2 separate regions of the Homo sapiens genome follow, and region 1 is linked to region 2. The links come from fine-mapping of genetic effects on gene expression. A gene starts in region 2. The other region holds a variant in brackets. All regions are shown on one strand. Distances are from middle to middle.

Region 1 (5,239 bases), 54 kb after region 2:
ACTCAGAGGTCCTGGGGTCAGGACACAATCACTTGCCCATGTTTTGTGGGCCCCAGCTGTCTGCAGTTCTTGCAGTTCTGTAGCGTTTGTGCCCAGAGCTAAAGTCCCACTGGACTCGGTGTTATTATGTATGGGAGCACAGGGAAGCGGCCTCTTCTCTAGACCAGCGAGATTAGGAAAGGCTTCCCAGAGGAGGGGACACCTGAGCCAAATTCTGCAGGGTGACAGGAGTAGCCAGCAGAGGGATGTGGACAGGGGAGCACGCGGAGCATATGCCTCTATTCCAGGCAGAGAGCACATCATGTCCAAAGGCCCAAATTTAAGACATAGATTGGGCTGTGGTTTAAGTTCATTTTGGTGAAGTGTGGGTGAAAAGGTTAATGGCGCTAGATCCCCAAGTGGGAGTCAGATTCTGTAAGGCCTTGTGAAGAGTTTGGACTCCATCCAGAGTCCACTTGCGTTTGGATGTGTCAGTCATGGGGGTGACCTAGTTTGTGATACGAGAAAATAAAAAGGTGGCTGTGTGGAGACTGTATTATGGGGATAAGACTGGAAAAAAGAATACCTGCCTGGAGGGAAATCACTGAAGCTCTCTGGTGTTTGTGCCTTGGTGCCCAAGCTGGTTGTACCTCCCTGACTGCCGGAGATGACCAGCTCCGAAACCGACTGTCCTGTAGGATCCCGAGTGATCAGTGTCACTTGAGGATGGGGTGCTATTCCGTGTTCTGTAATGCCTTCCTTTCTGTGAGGCCAGCAGGAACTGTGGTTCGTTTCAGATGACGTGTCTAAGGTGGCATTCCTGACCGTGACCCTACACCAAGGCGGAGCCACTCGCATGTACGCACTCACATCTGACGCGCAGCCTCTGCTGCTCAGCACCTTCAGCGGAGACCGCCGCTTCTCCCGATTTGGTGGCGTTCTGCACTTGAGTGACCTGGATGATGATGGCTTAGGTAAGAAAGGAACAGGACCCTTTGACAAGAATTGAGTCCCTTTGCCCAGGGGGTGGGTCCCCTAATTGGGTCATCTGGGCTCTGCCCTTATAATTGACAGCCCAGTGGCCCAAGGACCTTTAGACAGATCTTGAATGAGGCAAGACCAGAGAGGGAGTTGCACTTCTTGAAGCTGGTAATATGAGAATCACCTGTAGTAATTGCTATTGATGAATGAAGTAGGAAACAAAAGCCTTTGCCAGGATGAAATCACAGCCGACTAAAGGAGATACTAATATTATTTGTAAGAGGTTGGGTTAGGATCCAGTAGCGGAACAAGGAAAAGATGACAGTGAGGAGTCAAATACTTCCTTCTGTCGGTTTTTATTGTTTTCAGATGAAATCATCATGGCAGCCCCCCTGAGGATAGCAGATGTAACCTCTGGACTGATTGGGGGAGAAGACGGCCGAGTATATGTATATAATGGCAAAGAGACCACCCTTGGTGACATGACTGGCAAATGCAAATCATGGATAACTCCATGTCCAGAAGAAAAGGTAAGTGTTCTACAAAATTCTATAACTTATTGGGAAAGGATCACTAATTGCTGATTCCTTGTTAACTCATGTCCACTATAAAGTGCTTACCTGAATTCATACCTCCTAGGGTCAGGACACCATCATCTGTCCATGTTTTGTGGGCCCCAGCTGCCTGCAGTTCTTACAGTTCTGCAACATTTGTGCCCAGAGCTAAAGTCCCACTGGACTTGGTGTTATGTAGGTCCCTGGTCACACAGCCTGCCACTGCTTGGTTAGGCACCCACAGCACAGAAGAAAGAAAACAGGCCATGGCCATTGGAGTTTCTCTTTTTAAAATAGAGACGGGTTCCTGTTCCATTGCCCAGGCTGGAGTGCAGTGGTGTGATCATGGCCCACTGCAGCCTCAAACTCCTGGGCTCAGGTGATTCTCTTGTCTCAGCCTCCCGAGTAGCTAGGACTACAGGCATGTGCCACCACACCCGGCTAATCTTTTTATTATTTGTAGAGATGGGGCCTCACTATGTTGCCCAGGCTGGTATTGAACTCTTGGGCTCAAGCAGTTCTTCTACCTGGCCTCACAAAGTGCTGGGATTACAGGCATGAGCCACCATGCTCGGCCAGCCACTGGAGTTTCATTAAAACGTCCTCTCTTTTGCTTTTTGTTTCATTTCTTTGTTTATTCCTTTTTTGGGTGAGTTTCCTTAAGTTACATTTCCTGGGCCTAAAGCATTTGGCCATTATTTAACTTTTTTTTTTTTTTTTTTTTTTTGAGACAGCGTCTGGCTCTATTGCCCAGGCTGGAGTGCAGTGGCACGGTCTCGGCTCACTGCAACCTCCTCCTCCCAGGTTCAAGCCATTTTCCTGCTTCAGCCTCCCGAATAGCTGGGACTACAGGCATGCACCACCACGCCTGGCTAATTTTTTGTATTTTTAGTAGAGACAGGGTTTCACCATGTCGGCCAGGCTGGGATTACAGCCCAAAGTGCTGGGATAACAGGCATGAGCCACCGTACCCCACCTATTTTAAAAAATTTAAAATTATTTTTTAAATTGCAAAATTAGTGAAAGTTTATTATGGAAATTTTAGAAAATACAAAAATGTACAAAGAGAATTAAAAATTATCTACCTAAAATTCCACTCTGCAGAGCTAATACCTGCTTACCTTTAGAGCGGATCCTGCTAGTATTTTTCCTATGAATTTAATTACTACCATTTATTGTGCATTTAGTATGCATATGCTAAGAACTATGTATCATTTAATCCCCATAAAAGCTATGAAATTGGCCGGGCGCAGTGGCTCACGCCTGTAATCCCAGCACTTTGGGAGGCTGAGGCGGGCGGATCACAAGGTCAGAAGATCGAGACCATCCTGGCTAACACTGTGAAACCCTGTCCCTACTAAAGATACAAAAAATTAGCCGGGCTTGGTGGCGGGCGCCTGTAGTCCCAGCTACTC[G/A]GGAGGCTGAGGCAGGAGAATGGCGTGAACCCGGGAGGCGGAGCTTGCAGTGAGTCGAGATCATGCCACTGCACTCCAACCTGGGCAACAGCAAGACTCTGTCTCAAAAAAAAAAAAAAAGAAATTAATATTATGCCCATTTACAGATTAAAAAAATTAAAGATCTCAGCTGAGTGTGGTGGCTTATGCTTGTAATCCCAGCACTTTGGGAGGCTGAGGCAGGAGGATCCCTTGAGCTCAGGAGTTCAGCACCAGCTTGGGCAACATAGGGAGACCCTGTCTTTTTTTTTTTTTTTTTTGAGACGGAGTCTCGCTCTGTCGCCCAGGCTGGAGTGCAGTGGCGTGATCTCGGCTCACTGCAACCTCCACCTCCCAGGTTCATGCCATTCTCCTGCCTCAGCCTCCCAAGTAGCTGGGGCTACAGGCGCCCACTACCACGCCTGGCTAATTTTTTTGTATTTTTAGTAGAAACGGGGTTTCACCGTGTTAGCCACGATGGTCTTGATCTCCTGACCTCGTGATCCGCCCAAGACCCTGTCTTAAAATAAAAAAATTAAAGATCAGCGAGGAAGTTTATTCAAGGTTACACTGCCAGGAAGGCAGGGCACAACAGAGATTTGAACCAAGATCTGATTCTAAAGCCTACCCTTAAGTATTACACTATGTGCGTGCATATTTTGGTTAACAATTGTGATCCTATTGTGCATAATTTGTGCATAATTTTGTAACTTTTTTTTTTTTAATGGAGTCTCACTCTGTCATCCAGGCTGGAGTGCAGTGGCATGATCTCGGCTCAGTAAAACCTCCACCTCCCAGGTTCAAGCGATTCTCCTGCCTCAGCTTCCTGAGTAGCTGGGACTACAGGCGCACACCACCGTGCCTGGCTAATTTTTGTGTTTTTAGTAGAGACGGGGTTTCACCACGTTGGCCAAGCTGGTCTCGAACTCCTGACCTCCAGTGATCCGCCTGCCTCAGCCTCCCAAAGTGCTGGGATTATAGGTGTGAGCCACTGTGCCTGGCCGTAACTTGATTTTTCTTTCTACCTAACAATATACCGAGAACATTTTCTTATGTTATCTGATATTCTTATATAATATGATATTTACCGGCTGATGAGTATTTTATCTACAGACAAACCATAGTTTATTTACCCATTATTCAGGCAACCATTGTTAGTCAATTGTGCCATTTCCAATTTTCATTGTTTTAAATAATATGGTAAATAGTCACATAAATGTTTTTATACATCTGGTTATTTTTCTGACCTGTATTTCTATAAGTAGAATTTCTGGGGTCAAAGGGCATGCACATTTGTAAGGCTAATCAAGAAATGTAGAAATGAGGCTGGGCGTGGTGGCTCATGCCTGTAATCCCAGCACTTTGGGAGGCTGAGGTGGGTGGATCACCTGAGGTGAGGAGTTCGAGACCGGCCTGGCCAACGTGGTGAAACCGCCTCTCTACTAAAAATACAAAAAAATTAACCGGGCGTGGTGGTGGGCGCCTGTAATTCCATCAACTCACGAGGCTGAAGCGGGAGACTTGCTTGAACCTGGGAGGCAGAGGTTGCAGTGAGCTGAGATCACGCCACTGCACTCCAGCCTGGGCGACAGAGCAAGACTCCTTCTCAAAAAAAAAAAAAAAAAAAAAAAAAAGTAGAAATGAGGGTATAAGGGTATAATTAAAATTGATTTTAAAAAGCCACACAAACAGTAATAACATTGTCTCTCTCCTCAATTTTTTTCTTCAGGCCCAATATGTATTGATTTCTCCTGAAGTAAGTATCCCTTGAAAGACTGAAGAAAGAAAAATTACCAAAACAATGCCCCTTGGTTTATTTTAAACGGATAAAGTATTACACTATGTTCTTCAAAGCCCATTAACAGACGGCATGTTTTACAGGCCAGCTCAAGGTTTGGGAGCTCCCTCATCACCGTGAGGTCCAAGGCAAAGGTGAGCCCAAGGACTGAACTTCATTGATGTTTATGTTAGTACTACGGGTGGGATTTGGTGGTCTCACTTGTTAGGTTTATTTCAGATTTTATTTTTATTTGAAAAGGAGAGGAACACACAGAAAGTAACATTCACATATAATCTCATCACTTCCTTGGTGGAAAGTTTCCCTTTTTACTCTTCCTATTTTATCCTCTACAGCAGGGGTTGGGGCCAAGTCGTCTGCCACCTAATTTTGTAAAGCCATGAACTAAAAAAGTCAGCTCATGTTGAGATGGTTGAAAAGAAATCAAAACAGAATGTTTTGTAACATATGAAGTTTAAACGGCAGTGCAGTTTCAGCGCCCACACAGCTGTAGT
Region 2 (5,239 bases):
CCTCTCCCCCATTTTCTTTTTCTTTTTTTTCTTTCACTTTTTTTTTTTTTTTTTTTTTTGAGTCAGGGTCTTACTCTGTCGCCCAGGCTGGAGTGCAATGGCACGATCTCAGCTCATTGCAACGTCTGCCTCCTGGGTTCAAGTGATTCTCCTGCCTCAGCCTCCAGAGTAGCTGGGAGTACAGGTGCGCGCCACCATGCCTGGCTAATTTTTGTATTGTTTAGTAGAGATGGGGTTTCACCATGTTGGCCAGGCTGGTCTTGAACTCCTGACCTCAGGTGATCTGCCCACCTCGGCCTCCCAAAGTGCTGGGATTACAGGCATGAGACACTGTGCCCAGCCTCTTCTCCCCCATTTTCTAGACTGGCCCACATAAAGCTTGAGACCCTCTGGCTTTCAAACCTGTATTCTCCCTACTCACTCCTTAATGTAACTGTATGTTTACTTTTCACCTTGGGTCTCTATTTCCAGAAGAGTTCTAAATGGTAGAATCATGCTGTCTTGTTTATAACAAAGCCACCTATATTAGGAAAGGGGGGTGTGGGGCAGAAAGAAAAATATTTCCATATGCTTATTATTTGTCAGATAGTAATATTGTGAGCTACGTTTTAACTTTCTTTAAAGTCATATCTTTGATGTTTTTATTGTTACCAAAGTAATACAAACTTCATAAAACTGCAAGCAATATTGTCATATAAAGACCATATTCATAACTATCACACTAAGCAAATAATTTCCTCTTATTTTATTACATTTATACGTTTATGTCATTCTGAATCTCAAATACAAAAAAATGCATAATGAGAAATTGAGACATTTGGGATTAGTATTGTTTGGTAACTGAACCCATTCCTTTTTTTTTTTTGAGGTGGGGTCTTGCCCAGGCTGGAGTGCAGTGGTGTGATCTCAGCTCACTGCAACCTTCACTTCCCAGGTACAGGCGATGTTCCCGCCTCAGCCTCCTGAGTAGCTTGGACCATAAGTGCATGCCACCATGCCCGGCTAATTTTTGTTTTTGTTTTTTTCTTGGTAGAGACGGGATTTTGCCATGTTGCACAGGCTGGTTTTGAACTCCTGGCCTCAAGCCATCTGCCCGCCTTGGCCTCCTAAAGTGCTGGGATTATAGGCGTGAGCCACCACACCTGTTCTGAACCCATTTCTTTGGTGCTTTTTGGATGGGTTTGTTGTATTATATATGGTTAGATATCTTTTCTAGCAGTATTTTTTTCCCCTGTAACCATTGATTGACTGCTCTTGGATGTTCTGAGAGACAATATCCAAAGTCCCAATTAATAATTGTGACTCCCTCACGCACAGTCTGTAGAAGGCCCAGAGTGACAGGGAGGCAAACTCAAAGGCCTCTGGTGGCCAGAAGGGGTGTGGAAACCTGCACACATTGCATGGATGGTGGGGACTGGAGGAGCAGGACATGCTCTATCAGGGGGCAGCTGGCTCTTTGGCTGCAGCTGGTTGTCGTGTCACATGGGAGCGTCAGTTCATGATGCCAGTTCTTTTGTTTTTAAGAGAGCCAGAAATCTAGATTTCTACGTGAATTTTCTCATTTAGAAAAAGTTCATAAACTTGATTTAAGTTTATAAAACATCCTGTTAGCCAAACAAAACACGTAGGCATATGGCCTCTGGACTAATCAGGAGTAGCTGGGCCTACTGCCCCTCAGGTCTGGGGGTAGCTGCGGGATTTCTTTCCTTGGGGCTGTGCACATGGCTGTGTTAAGCTTACAGGGGAAACTGTTGGGGCGACAACTGTTGTCAAATCATTCCACTTTCTTTTTTTCTTTTCTTTTTTTTTTTTTGAGACAGGGTCTTGCTCTGTCACCCAGGCTAGAGTGCAGTGGTGCAATCTCGGCTCACCGCAATCTCCACCTCCTGGGTTCAAGAGATCCTCCCACCTCAGCCTCCCCAGTAGCTGGGACTACAGTCACGTGCCACCACACCTGGCTAATTTTTGTATTTTTAGTAGAGACGGGGTCTTCACTATGTTGATCACGCTGGTCTCAAACTCCTGACCTCAGGTGATCCACCAGCCTCAGCCTCCCAGAGTGCTGGGATTACAGGTGTGGGCCGCCACGCCCAGCCAAATCATCCCACTTTCTATTCATCCTTTCATTTGGCAAACCTGAAGTGAATACTATTTCCTCCCACTCTTTTAGGAGCCCATCTCTTGCTTTTAATGTAAAATATGCATAATTTGTGTTTTAAGATTACCATCAGTTTCATGAAGAGCTTAATTTTTCCCATGGATGAAGTGTAAGTGGGTACCTGATAATATATCGTGAGCTTAACATTTTCCAAACCCTGTTTCTTGGCCCTAAATCTGCCCCCTTCCTTCCACCTCCCAAGTGGAATTGACATCTTTGCTTCAGCTGCAGGAATCTGACCTTGCAACAGGCTCTGGATAAGCCCTATTAGAACAGCCAGAGGTAGAGAGACCAGGAGTGGCTGCTCTTGTGTAATCCCATACAAGTGTCAGTATCTGTTGCCAAATACTGAAAAGGAAGCCAGTTCCAGCTGATTACCATAAAACTTTCCCAGCACTTGTGGCTTGGGAGGCGGAGGAAGCAGGACAGCCTGATAAATGTGTAGAAAGGATGCATGAGAGATCCACCCTTGTAAGGTGAGGTGGTCTAATATGTTGACTATCTGCACAGGTGAGCCTTTTTATAGAAAGCAAAAAATATCTGGAGACAACTTTGCTTGCATCTCTACACAAATTTCATGTTAAAATGAAATCCAGAAAAAACCTCGGTCAGAAGATGCAGTGCTTCTGGCCTAAGGCTTTTCAGATTTCAGTTTATCCTCCCAACCCCACCCCCCAGGAGCACAGAGTTTGTTTGCTGTTCTGGTGAAGCTAAACAGTAGTTGGACAGTTGACTTCATTGGAAAACGATATTATTTTGAAATGAGGCTTGGTTTCCTCGGTCAGTGACCTGCTTAGAGAGAAGCGGTGGGTCTGCACCTGGATTTTGGAGTCCCAGTGCTGCTGCAGCTCTGAGCATTCCCACGTCACCAGAGAAGCCGGTGGGCAATGAGATCATGTCTGCTTTCAGGTTGTGGCCTGGCCTGCTGATCATGTTGGGTTCTCTCTGCCATAGAGGTTCACCGTGTGGCCTTTCAACACACGTAGAAATAGGTAAGTACTGGTGTCTTGTTATGTTGTTGAGAGGACAATACATCTGTCAAAGACATTAAGGAAGAGACTGAAAATCCCGCTCGTGGATTGATACAGTTTCCCCTGGGCACTGAGCTGAGTGGCCTGACAGCAGGGAGGAGAAGCCGGTGATTGCAGTCATCCAGGGATAGGGATTGGCAGCATGACTTCAGTTAAGGGGCAAATAAGAAAGAGAGCTGATGCCCCATTGGTCATGGGACCCCTGTGTGTTTCTCTGGGTGGGGAAATAGTGAGAGGCTCAGTGAACGAGAGGTTGCAACGTGGCAGCAGAACTGACAGAATGGGAGAGGAACAAGATGGGTGGAATATGGCAGGAGTGAGAAATGTACTTTTGTTGTTTTTACATGTCCAAGGACAGGCATTTCCAAGTATATGTAAAGAGCCATATGTGGCCATGGGAGTGGGTCCCTGAGTCAAATTGCTGTAAAAGTGCTTGGCTTCAGGAAGGTCAAGAAAGTAAGGGAGTTTAGTTATCCACATGCACGGTGCCAGGAAGATGGCAGGAGTTGGAGAGCAGAAGGGTACAGCAAGCCAGTGCCACCGACCTTAGGGGCAAGGGCAGAGTCATCCTGGATATAGGGAGATGGCACCACAAAGAGTTATTTAAAATTTTTATTTTTCTAGCTTTATTGATGTATAATTGACAAAAATTGTATAAATTTAAGATATACAACATGATGTGTTGATATATGTATGCCTTGTGAAATGATTAGCACAATCAAGCTAATTAACACATCCGCCCCCCCCACATAGCTACCATGTTTTTTGCATATGGGCTGAGAACACTTAAGATCTTTCTTAGCAAAAGGATTTGGTTCTTGTATGAAGTGTATTTGTAACATGTTTTAACGCATGGAAAACGTGAGTCAATTTGTAATAGAATTAGCTGTGATAACATTCTACAGCAATTTTCAGATTAATTTCAGATATACCTGATGTTCTGAGTTTTCTTTTTTTTTTTTTTGAGACGGAGTCTCGCTCTGTCCGCCATGCTGGAGTGCAGTGGCGCAATCTCGGCTCACTGCAAGCTCCGCCTCCTGGGTTCACACCATTCTCCTGCCTCAACCTCCCGAGTAGCTGGGACTACAGGTGCCCGCCACCACGCCTGGCTAATTTTTTTGTATTTTTTTTTAGTAGAGATGGGGTTTCACCATGTTAGCCAGGATGATCTCGATCTCCTGACCTTGCGATCCGCCTGCCTCGGCCTCCCAAAGTGCTGGGATTACAGGCGTGAGCCATCGCGCCTGGCCTGAGTTTTCTTTAATTTAGATAAAAATTATAACAGAATTTTATAGTTGTACCACCTCCAGAAGTTTCAAAGAATAATAAGATTATAGGCAAAAAATGAAAATTTATCAGTGCAAAATAGACATATATACTGAGCTACGATGGGCAAGAACCTGTTATCACAGAATTTGACTATCTGAAAGGACACTAGAAGTCACCGAGTCCAGTTCTCTTCTTTTACAGATGAAGAAACTGATACTAGACAGTTTTACAGCTAAGTTTTCAGTGGCCTGGCCTAGAATTACATGTCCTGACAGCTGGTCCGGCGTTCTTTCCATTAAAAATGTACTGCTAGAAGGGAGTCAGGAAACAATGGAAAAGAGGATCAGACTTAGGTTCTAGTTCCAGCCATCCAGTAAAGTAGATGTGTGATTCTGAGCAATTCACTTTTTACCTACCTCTCAATTCTATAAAATGAGGGGGTTGAACTTCTTAAAGAATTCTAAAGTGTCTTGCAGTTCTATGTTCTGTGAAGTTGAAATTGCCAAAACTACAGAGTAAGCTGATGAGGAACAAATATAAATGGAAATACTCCATTTTTAATCCTTAGTGTTTAAAAATTTACAAGACAGATTGCATCTGAAATTTTAATAAAACCAGATAATTGCTTGCCCTTCTTCATTAAGTACCAAACAAAGGTCCTAATGGACATTTAAAGAATAATATTTATGTGAACATAATTGAAGGCATCTCCTGAAATAGAATCTGCACGGATTCTGAGAATTTTTTTACATAGAAGAAGACCAAAACTCCATCATTTATT

The links. PIP is the estimated chance that this variant, and not a neighbour inherited with it, causes the effect.
Region 1: its variant is fine-mapped to the expression of GPLD1 in tibial artery (GTEx, PIP 0.96).

What each region holds. Positions count from the first base shown.
Region 1 is chr6:24,432,827-24,438,065 of GRCh38, reverse strand. It overlaps GPLD1 (glycosylphosphatidylinositol specific phospholipase D1), which reads left to right. Exons shown (of 25, transcript NM_001503.4): 21 at 777-953; 22 at 1,330-1,490; 23 at 4,677-4,703; 24 at 4,829-4,879. Among named protein-coding and RNA genes, the nearest start is that of MRS2, 33 kb to the right of the region's middle. The variant G/A (reference allele first, on the strand shown) is at 2,930.
Region 2 is chr6:24,487,326-24,492,564 of GRCh38, reverse strand. It overlaps GPLD1 (glycosylphosphatidylinositol specific phospholipase D1), which reads left to right and starts at 2,987. Exons shown (of 25, transcript NM_001503.4): 1 at 2,987-3,150. The coding sequence starts at 3,054.